Linked DNA regions of Homo sapiens. The protein of the gene in region 1 purifies or fractionates together with the protein of each later gene. This does not show direct contact. Each region holds a gene or a part of one and is shown on either strand. Other genes may lie near its edges.

Evidence for each region.
Region 2: the proteins of CELF2 (region 1) and A1CF purify together in Homo sapiens (affinity purification with western blotting; one study listed by BioGRID). This does not show direct contact.

What each region holds. Positions count from the first base shown.
Region 1 is NC_000010.11:11,016,477-11,020,671, reverse strand, and holds the start of CELF2 (CUGBP Elav-like family member 2), read right to left. Parts: upstream 2,801-4,195; 5' UTR 2,583-2,800; coding exon 2,509-2,582; intron 2,401-2,508; exon of another isoform or gene 2,197-2,400; intron 2,175-2,196; exon of another isoform or gene 2,144-2,174; intron 1,917-2,143; exon of another isoform or gene 1,808-1,916; intron 1-1,807. UniProt on the Homo sapiens protein: RNA-binding protein implicated in the regulation of several post-transcriptional events. Involved in pre-mRNA alternative splicing, mRNA translation and stability.
Region 2 is NC_000010.11:50,812,302-50,816,333, forward strand, and holds part of A1CF (APOBEC1 complementation factor), read right to left. Parts: intron 3,979-4,032; coding exon 3,705-3,978; intron 1,762-3,704; coding exon of another isoform or gene 1,738-1,761; coding exon 1,556-1,737; intron 1-1,555. UniProt on the Homo sapiens protein: Essential component of the apolipoprotein B mRNA editing enzyme complex which is responsible for the postranscriptional editing of a CAA codon for Gln to a UAA codon for stop in APOB mRNA.

The DNA.
Region 1 (4,195 bases):
ATTCTACTGCTTTAGAAAAATCAACAGCAGAAAAGCCCCTATGCTTTATTTAAGTTCCTTTTAGGAACAGGCCAATATCTAGCCGACTGCAATTTAGTCCAAATGGCAATATACCACACATGACAACCAGTCCCTAAAACAATAAATCCGCATGGCTATCTTCTCAACTGGGTGAATATGGCAATAAAACTTACAACTTAGGCGGATTTCAGGCATTTTCAACTTGTCATATTCCCCCCCACACACCTCTATCCCCAGATACAGTATTTAATGTGAGTTAATTATGAACGATATATAAAAGCATGCTCTAGTGTTCTCAGGGCTATGGAGACACACAATAGCTATTTAGGAAACAAATAATAAAACTATCATTTACAAATCCTCTTTTCTTCCCTTAGTTCAATTAAGCAACAGCTGACAAACGCTGAGAACAATTTGGGTTTGATTCCAAAGGCTATCATTTGGAAATAACTAACATTTGGAAGAGAAGTGAGGTGGAAGTCACGTTAGGATTTTCATAGGAGACTCCATGGCTAAGGCACAAGGGCTCAGTTCAGAGCAAATCGCTTGAACAGGCCACATTCATCCACCAAATGAAAAGGATAAATTAAATTTTTGTAATTCATAATTTAATTGACAAGAAACTGCATCTTTCTGAGGCCATTAACACTTTAAATTCATAGAGCATTCATCAGCTTAGCTATATTATGGTCACTTAAGTAGCAGGTGACCATAAATTCAAAATCATGATTAGGCGAATTCTTCAGTTTAGCCTGGACCCTCTAGCCTCTAGAGGAGAAAACGCATAAAACTTTCATACTAGCTCATGTGCAAACATGTATTACGTGTCTATACAGGTATATATTTTAAGATGGGGGACAGGACAGAGGTCTCTTAAAACAAATATCGTGGAAATGTTACTAATCATGATTCACATCTCGGAGAAAACTACCAAAACAGAATACGGAAAAGATGAACCTGATCGTGTACAAGCAAATTAACATTCTTAATATTGACTCAAAAGACAATTTGCATAACAGATTCTATCATCCCCCTCCTCCACCCCCCTCCTTTTTTTTGGTGGGGAGGTCCTTGCAGCTCAAATAATTGGCCACTGCAGAGTTTCTCAAGAATCTCTTAACTCATAACACTTAACATGCTAGAAAAAGAATCTAGCATGGCAGGGGAAAGTTAGTTGCCAGGGAAATGGATCATAAAGCCTGGAATAACCTCAATACTGCAGAGTACCATAAGGTGCCAGACAGAATAGGGATGTTAAGTCCTACAGTGGGTAGAACAGGAAACATTTTACACGCACTCTTACCATACCAATCCATTTTTTTCTCACTGGATTAGATTAATTACAGCTTAGATCCGCTATCCAATTTCTCGCCTGATCAGAGAAAACTTAAAATGTCGAAAAAGGACACAGACCTTTTGTTCCCACTCTGGCAATCTTTTCTCTCTTTTTAGGTTTCCTTTTCCTAACATGCCTGAAATACAAATAGATCCTACTGACCCCTCCGAGCTAATAAAAACTTTCCTATCAAGCCAGCTAAAAATTAGACATACTTTCCTTTCTTCAGGAATCCCAGCTCTCTACTTCTTTCCAATAAACGCTCTACCTTAGTTTGACGACATGTAAAACAACCAGAATCACATTAATTATTAAATTACAGACTGCATATCAGACAAACCATGATTACGTAAAAATTACCTCTAATTTCTGCAATAAAGTACACCTGGCTAGTTTCACGCTTTATAATTATCCCCCCGCCCTTCCTTGTCTCCGCTTCCCCTCTCCCACCTTAGGAAAGGATCTTTGCAAATATTAAATCAGATGAGCGGGTAATTTGGTAAGAAGAGCTCTTTCCCCCCGGCCACCAGAGCTCCGTCAGCCCCGCATTTCAAATGACACAAGCGTGCACACTCGCACGCGCGCACCCCGCCCGGACCCCGTGCCCGCTCGCCGGTCCCCGCCCGGTCCCCGTCACGCCGCGCTCCGCTCAGTCCTCACCCGGACCCCCAGACCCCGCCCGGTCCCCGCCCGCCCCACCGGACCCCGGGACTCCGCGCCCGGCTCGCCGGTCCCACTTGGACTCATGGACCCCGCCCGGACCCCGGGACGCCGCGCCCCGCTCACCCTGCTCGCGGGTCCTCGCGCCGGTCGGTGGACCCCGCCCGTCCCCCACTCACCCCGCGGGGACCCGGGACGCCGCGCTCGGCCCGCTGGTCCTCACCCGGACTCGCGGACCCCGCCCGGTCCCCGGGACGCCGCGCTCCGCTCGTCCCTCCGGGAAGCCCCGCGCCCTGCACCGCCGGCGCTGCTCGTCCGCACCCGCTCCCTCCTCCCGCGTCCCGTGCCGGCCTCCGAAGGCCGAGGGAGGCGACGGATCCGAAGCGGCCGAGTCGCGCCCGGGAGCTGCGGGCGACGCCCGTCCCCTTCGCGCCGCCGACTCTGGGAGGAGGACGCCCGCTCGCCCGGCCTCGGGACGCGGCGCCACTCACATTCTGTCAGGAACGAGCAGGCGGCCCTCGACCATCATGTCCGGGAGGAAATCCAGCTTGAAGGCAGAAGTCATGTTCGCGGGCGCACGCGGCGGCAGCGGCGGGGGGCGGCTCTGCGCGCGTCCGAGCGGCCGCGGGCGGCGCGAGACGGGCAGGGACAGGTGCGCGCGGCCTCCCCCGGCGGCCGCCGAGCCGGCACTTGTCACATTCTCTCCTCGCGCTCCGCCAATCCCCTCCGAAATCCAGCGCCGGGGCGGCCGGCTGCCGAGCGCCAGGTGCGGCGGGCGGGGGCGGAGCTCGCGGGGCGCCCGCCGCCGCTTAACCCCTGCGGGCCCGCCGGCCCAGAGCGCGGCCCCGAACCCGGCTCCGCCCCGCGGGGACACAGGGCGGGCCGCCTCCGCGCTCACCGCCCGGGCACGGCCAGACTTCTCAGGGTCCCCTGGGCCCCCGAAGGCAAACCCGCTCCCCGCCTGGCTCTGCTCCCCCGCCCGGGGGTCCCTGGCAAGAGGCCGCCGTGGCCGCTCGGAGTAGGTTTAGGGCCACCCAGGCGCCAAAGCCCGCTCCACTTCCATACCCGAGCCGCGCTCCCAGAGCCCAGCCGCGGGAGGCGAGCAGCCCGAGGGTTCGCTTCGATGCTCCTCGGTGTGGTGTGCTTGCCCGGGCAGGAACTAAGGGCGATCACCGAAAGGATATAGGAGGTTTAGGCAAAATAAAGATCAGATCTATGACCCAAGTGACATTTAGGGACTTATCGCAGTGCCCTAAGGAAGACAAACCTGTCTCTGCACGATGGCACTGCCTTTTCTGTCATCTTGCAAACACTAAGAAGTATAAGCGGCTGAAAATAAAGTCATAAATCACGTTTTCTACACAAACGATAATCATGAATCTGCCATTTCCTAGTATTTAACACAATAATTAGAAACCAGCTGAGTGAATTCACGAGTGTTAGGTCTGTAATGTAAGGGCCATGAAGCTTAAATATCCACTTAAGATTTGTGACTGATTTACTAACAAGAATTGAGAAAAATGGCCAAACTCAGAAAAAACAGAGAAGCTGGCGAGTTTAATTTTTAAGTGATTTGCATAAGTTCTGGAAAACTAATTCGTTTCTAAGGTGACATTCTAATTGATCGTTCTCACTGTTGATTATGTGGGTGGCAAACTTTTCACAGTGTAGTCACAAGTATGTAAGACTTCATGGCATATTTCACATTCTGAATCAACATCATAAATTGCGTACCAAAAGTTTATAGTTTACCTCTTAGAGAAACCTTCACTTGATTTTGTAATGACATCTTAAACTTTTAGGGTAATGTATGTGTCTATACAGCTATACATCCATATACCTATACAAACATACACGCACACACACATGGTTTTGTTTGAAATATGTAATTTTCAGTCTTTGTCTTTCTAAAAATCAGAACTGTGCTAGGAAGCTGGGCTTTCTCCTCACAAATTATGCCTGAGGATACCATCACACAAACCAGAGGGTTAAACAACCAAGTTACAAATAGTTAAATGTATCAGACATGATATAGACAAAATATGATTTTAATTATTTCTCACCAGATTCTTGTGTGATGACAGCTAACTATCTTTAGAGGTTATGAAGGCAAATGGACACTTACATATCAATTTTAAATCCAGTTTGATGCATTGAGCAATACAAAGTATCAGACCT
Region 2 (4,032 bases), about 40 Mb from region 1:
GAAGTTCACAACTCTACTTTGGGATTGTTTAGGCCCCATCTGTGTTGGTTGGTGGTGGCATGGTCTTCATTTCTAAGCCATAGTTGTAGAAGGTCAGACACAAATTAAAGAACTTTTATTAATTGATAGAGATTGTTACTCACATACTAATAAAAGACATGATGAATTTCTAACTTGAGTTTAATGTAAAATGAAGAGATCTCTTTTCATACTATTGCAGCTCTCGGAACTATTATTATACAGAATTTGCGACTATTATTTTTTATTTTCTTAAAATATTTCTAAGTATTCCAGTACTTTAATCAGGTTTTTTGTTTTGGGTTTTAACCTAAGAGAAACTGGATGAGTGGCTTTTATATTTTCTGAACAAACTTCATCATATCACTTCCAGATTTCATTATATGTTTACGTGTCAGTTTTTTCCCACTGGATTGCCATCTAATTTTTCATGATAAGGATTTTGTTATATTCACTTCTACATCTCCAGCACCTAGCGCACTACATGGTGCATAAGAGAAGTTTACTAAATCTTATGTGAACAAATGATTGCTGTTTAGCAGTCTGATAGGCATTTTTTTTAAAATTCCCTGGGTGGGGCTAGCAGAAACCTTAGATAAGCTAATTTGTGCATAAAAGAAAGCCAGAAATCCCATTAAAAAATTACCCAAGATGAGCTTTTAGAAAACCAGTTTTCTTCTGGATTGAAATTATAAGGGCTACTTCCATAAATGTGAGGCTATAAGCCCACCTTTGTCATGGGAATAGGGAAGTTTCCTTCAAGATACACAAACTGTAACTCTGATTATTCAGCCAAAATGTATTTCAGAGAGATCAGCACCTATCACACTCCCACAGGGAACAGTCTCAGGGTTAGCATAGACTCTGTTTTGTTTTATTTTTAACCCCGGGAGTCAGTTTCCATATTGAAACTTTTATAGCTTTTAATTTTCCAATAATAAAAACCACAGGTTAATGTTGAAGTGTGGAAACTTAGAACTGTTAAATGAACACAGTAAAAACTCTCTGTAATGCCACTGCCAAAATATAACTATGGAGGAAGAGTTAATTTGGTATGACTGATGACATCTCATAGTTAATAATTCACCCAGATATCATGGTGGAGTTTTCTCTTAGATACAGTATTTCCAAGAAAAGATGTCCTAAATGGTCTATTCAGGGCACTGCCATAATACTCTTCATTTGCCAGCCAACCTGGCTCACATACAATAGGCATTTATTCTGAGATGGGGTCTTTGCCTCATTTCGGGTATGGGTTGATAATTCTTAATAGCTCTCAGATTCTTTGCATTTCAGTGGAATATTGTTCAAGGTGTTAGACTTTATGATTTTTTAAAAAAGAGAAAGGACCTATAATAGAATAATGGCACCAGATGCCCAGCATTCCTTCAAAGACTGTGACATTCATTGGATGCTTTATATATTAAAAGAAAAAAACCCATAGCTTGAGTAGGGATCAAGTCAAATCATTTGATAAAAGTGAATGATGCTCATTGGCACAACTTAAAGAAACTATTTCTGGAATAACATTACCTACCTGGGGAGCGAGTTTAATTCCTTGGGGTTTTAATGTGACAGGATTCATTGGGGTGAGCTCCATCCCAGGTAAAATGTCATAGAGTTTGTCTTCTCTTTTGTCTCCTTTGACCTGGTATCCTCGACCCAGGCCTGTGTATGCCAAATAGCCACGGCCGCCCAGTCCTCTCACTCCCGCAGCCCCTACAGGTACATTCATGTAAATTTCTAGGAACGTAAGAAGGCATTAAACTGAATCAAACCACCAGAAAATCACCCTGAATCTTACTGTAATGGAAAAGTTAGCCCAATTCACGTTGATTATTGCCCTGAAGATGGGTGGGAGACTCTAGGATTCTAATGTAATGAAACTCAACATAAGGTAAGGTTTAACATAGGTGTCTCTCTTTTTTGAAAAACTACCTTCAGAAGAAAACAATGCCATTGATAAATACAATACTATTGATAAGTACACAAACAACTTAAAAATTTTGGGATAGAAAATTTGCAATTTTTGTCTTTAGGTAACCTTGATATTTTATACAGACTAATAAAGACTGGGAATGTATTTATTAGAACATTCCAACATAATGCGACCACTTATTTTGAAATCAGTCTTGCATAGAGACTGTCACTGATCAGTATATCAGAAATAAATTCTGGCTTCCCTAATTATCCCACTTCCAATGACTTATTGTAAAACAAACATTTAGAAAGCATGCTTTTAGGTTCACCATGCTCTCTGATGTTCGGTCAATGTGAGGCTTAAATTTCCATTGAGTTTCATGCATAGATTCCTTTTGATTTTTGTTTTGCCATGTTACTACTTTGATTTTATATTGGTGGCATAGAGATAAAAAATTAAATTGATTACCCTTCATCCATGAATATCATTCATTGATTCCTTTCTTGTTATAAGATAGGCATTTTTTCCCTTATAGTGGAGTTTGTTTTTTTTCGACATCATAACTGGTTGACAATTTGTATTTAATGTATGGATTGGTTAATGAGGTGATTTTATATTCTAAATGCATAATGTTGCAATGATATAATTTATTATCACATAGACAAGTTACCTTAAAGGAAATCTTGATTATTTCATTTGCATTACAATTTTGGGGCAAGTAATTATGAGTATGAAACTTTTAAGGCTGTTGAAGACTAGAGCTCCTAATATGATCAATTTAGTTATACTGAAAAGTAGTAAAACATAGTAAGATAATTGTTTCCACAGTAATCTAGATGTGCCTTTTTGCTTCTAAGTCAAACCCAAGAATAGACTTAAATGCACAGTTTATCGAATTGCCCAGATTCATGTCGTATTTGGAGGATAGAACTGGGATTCAGTTGGCATTAGCCACATCCTAGAAAAACTCATCTGAAGGAGCCAAAAAGACAGGGACAAGCTAGTTTCTTGGAAATAGAATAAAGGCTTTCTTTATCTTCTAGCTTTCTTGAAGAAATGGAGCTTGGAAAACTGCTCAAACATTTAGAATTCTTACAGGATTCAAATGTGAAATATTTATTGTTTTATTAGCAGTCTGATTGAGGGTTTTTTTTCTATTTGTTGTTCAGTTCTCCATGTATTAAAGAAATATAGTAATGTCCTTAATTATTTGGCTTCTAAGAAAGTATAACATATTTCCTGGAGGAGGTCAGATGAGAACATCTCATATGTCTGTTAGATTATATTTATAATAATTTGTGATTTACATATTAAGACAATGCCACTGAGTCACCATCAAATACACACATGCCTTGAAAGGGTTTTGCTATTTGAGGTAATTGGTTTCCACTGGACTATACTAGTCTATTCCAGAAGTGTTGTAATGAGCCACAGATGACTACACAGTGGTGGACAAGTGATATAGAAGAAGCTAACAATTATAGAACTAGGTTTTAGTTTGTGCAAATTTTATGGGCCCATGCAAAGTTTGAATCTGTGCACTAGGCTCATTTGCACAATGTTCTGATGACGTTTTTTCAATAACCAGTTGTAATGTGAAAAAGATTCCTATTAAAGGAAAACTATTGATATAATAGTTGATTTTTAATAAACAATTTTTCAGTGCTTTTCTCCAAGTGGACCCATCCAATGTATCTAAGGCTACTGCAATTTGAGTCATTTGAAATCTTGGGATTACTCTAAAGCAAGATCTGACTGGTGTTACCTCTAACAGAAGGGGCTCGGATAATGGCTCTGTTGCTGAGATGTCCTTTGGTGGCTGGGAAATGAAGACTGGGAATTGCTGCATAGGTCTGGGGGGCATAGAAGACAGGAGCTCCAAGGTAGGTTGTGGTGGGATCATAAACTTGGCCCAAAGAGTAGGTATACTCTCCTTGCAGCATGGTGCCCCTTCCACCTGTGCCTCGGGTATACCTAACATAACTGTCCTTGTCCACTGGTTTTGCTAGGGTGACTTCAATGGGGGAACCATCCAGCACCTGTTGTAGAGAGCAAAGAAATATCAACGCGAGATGATATGAAGATAACCAAGT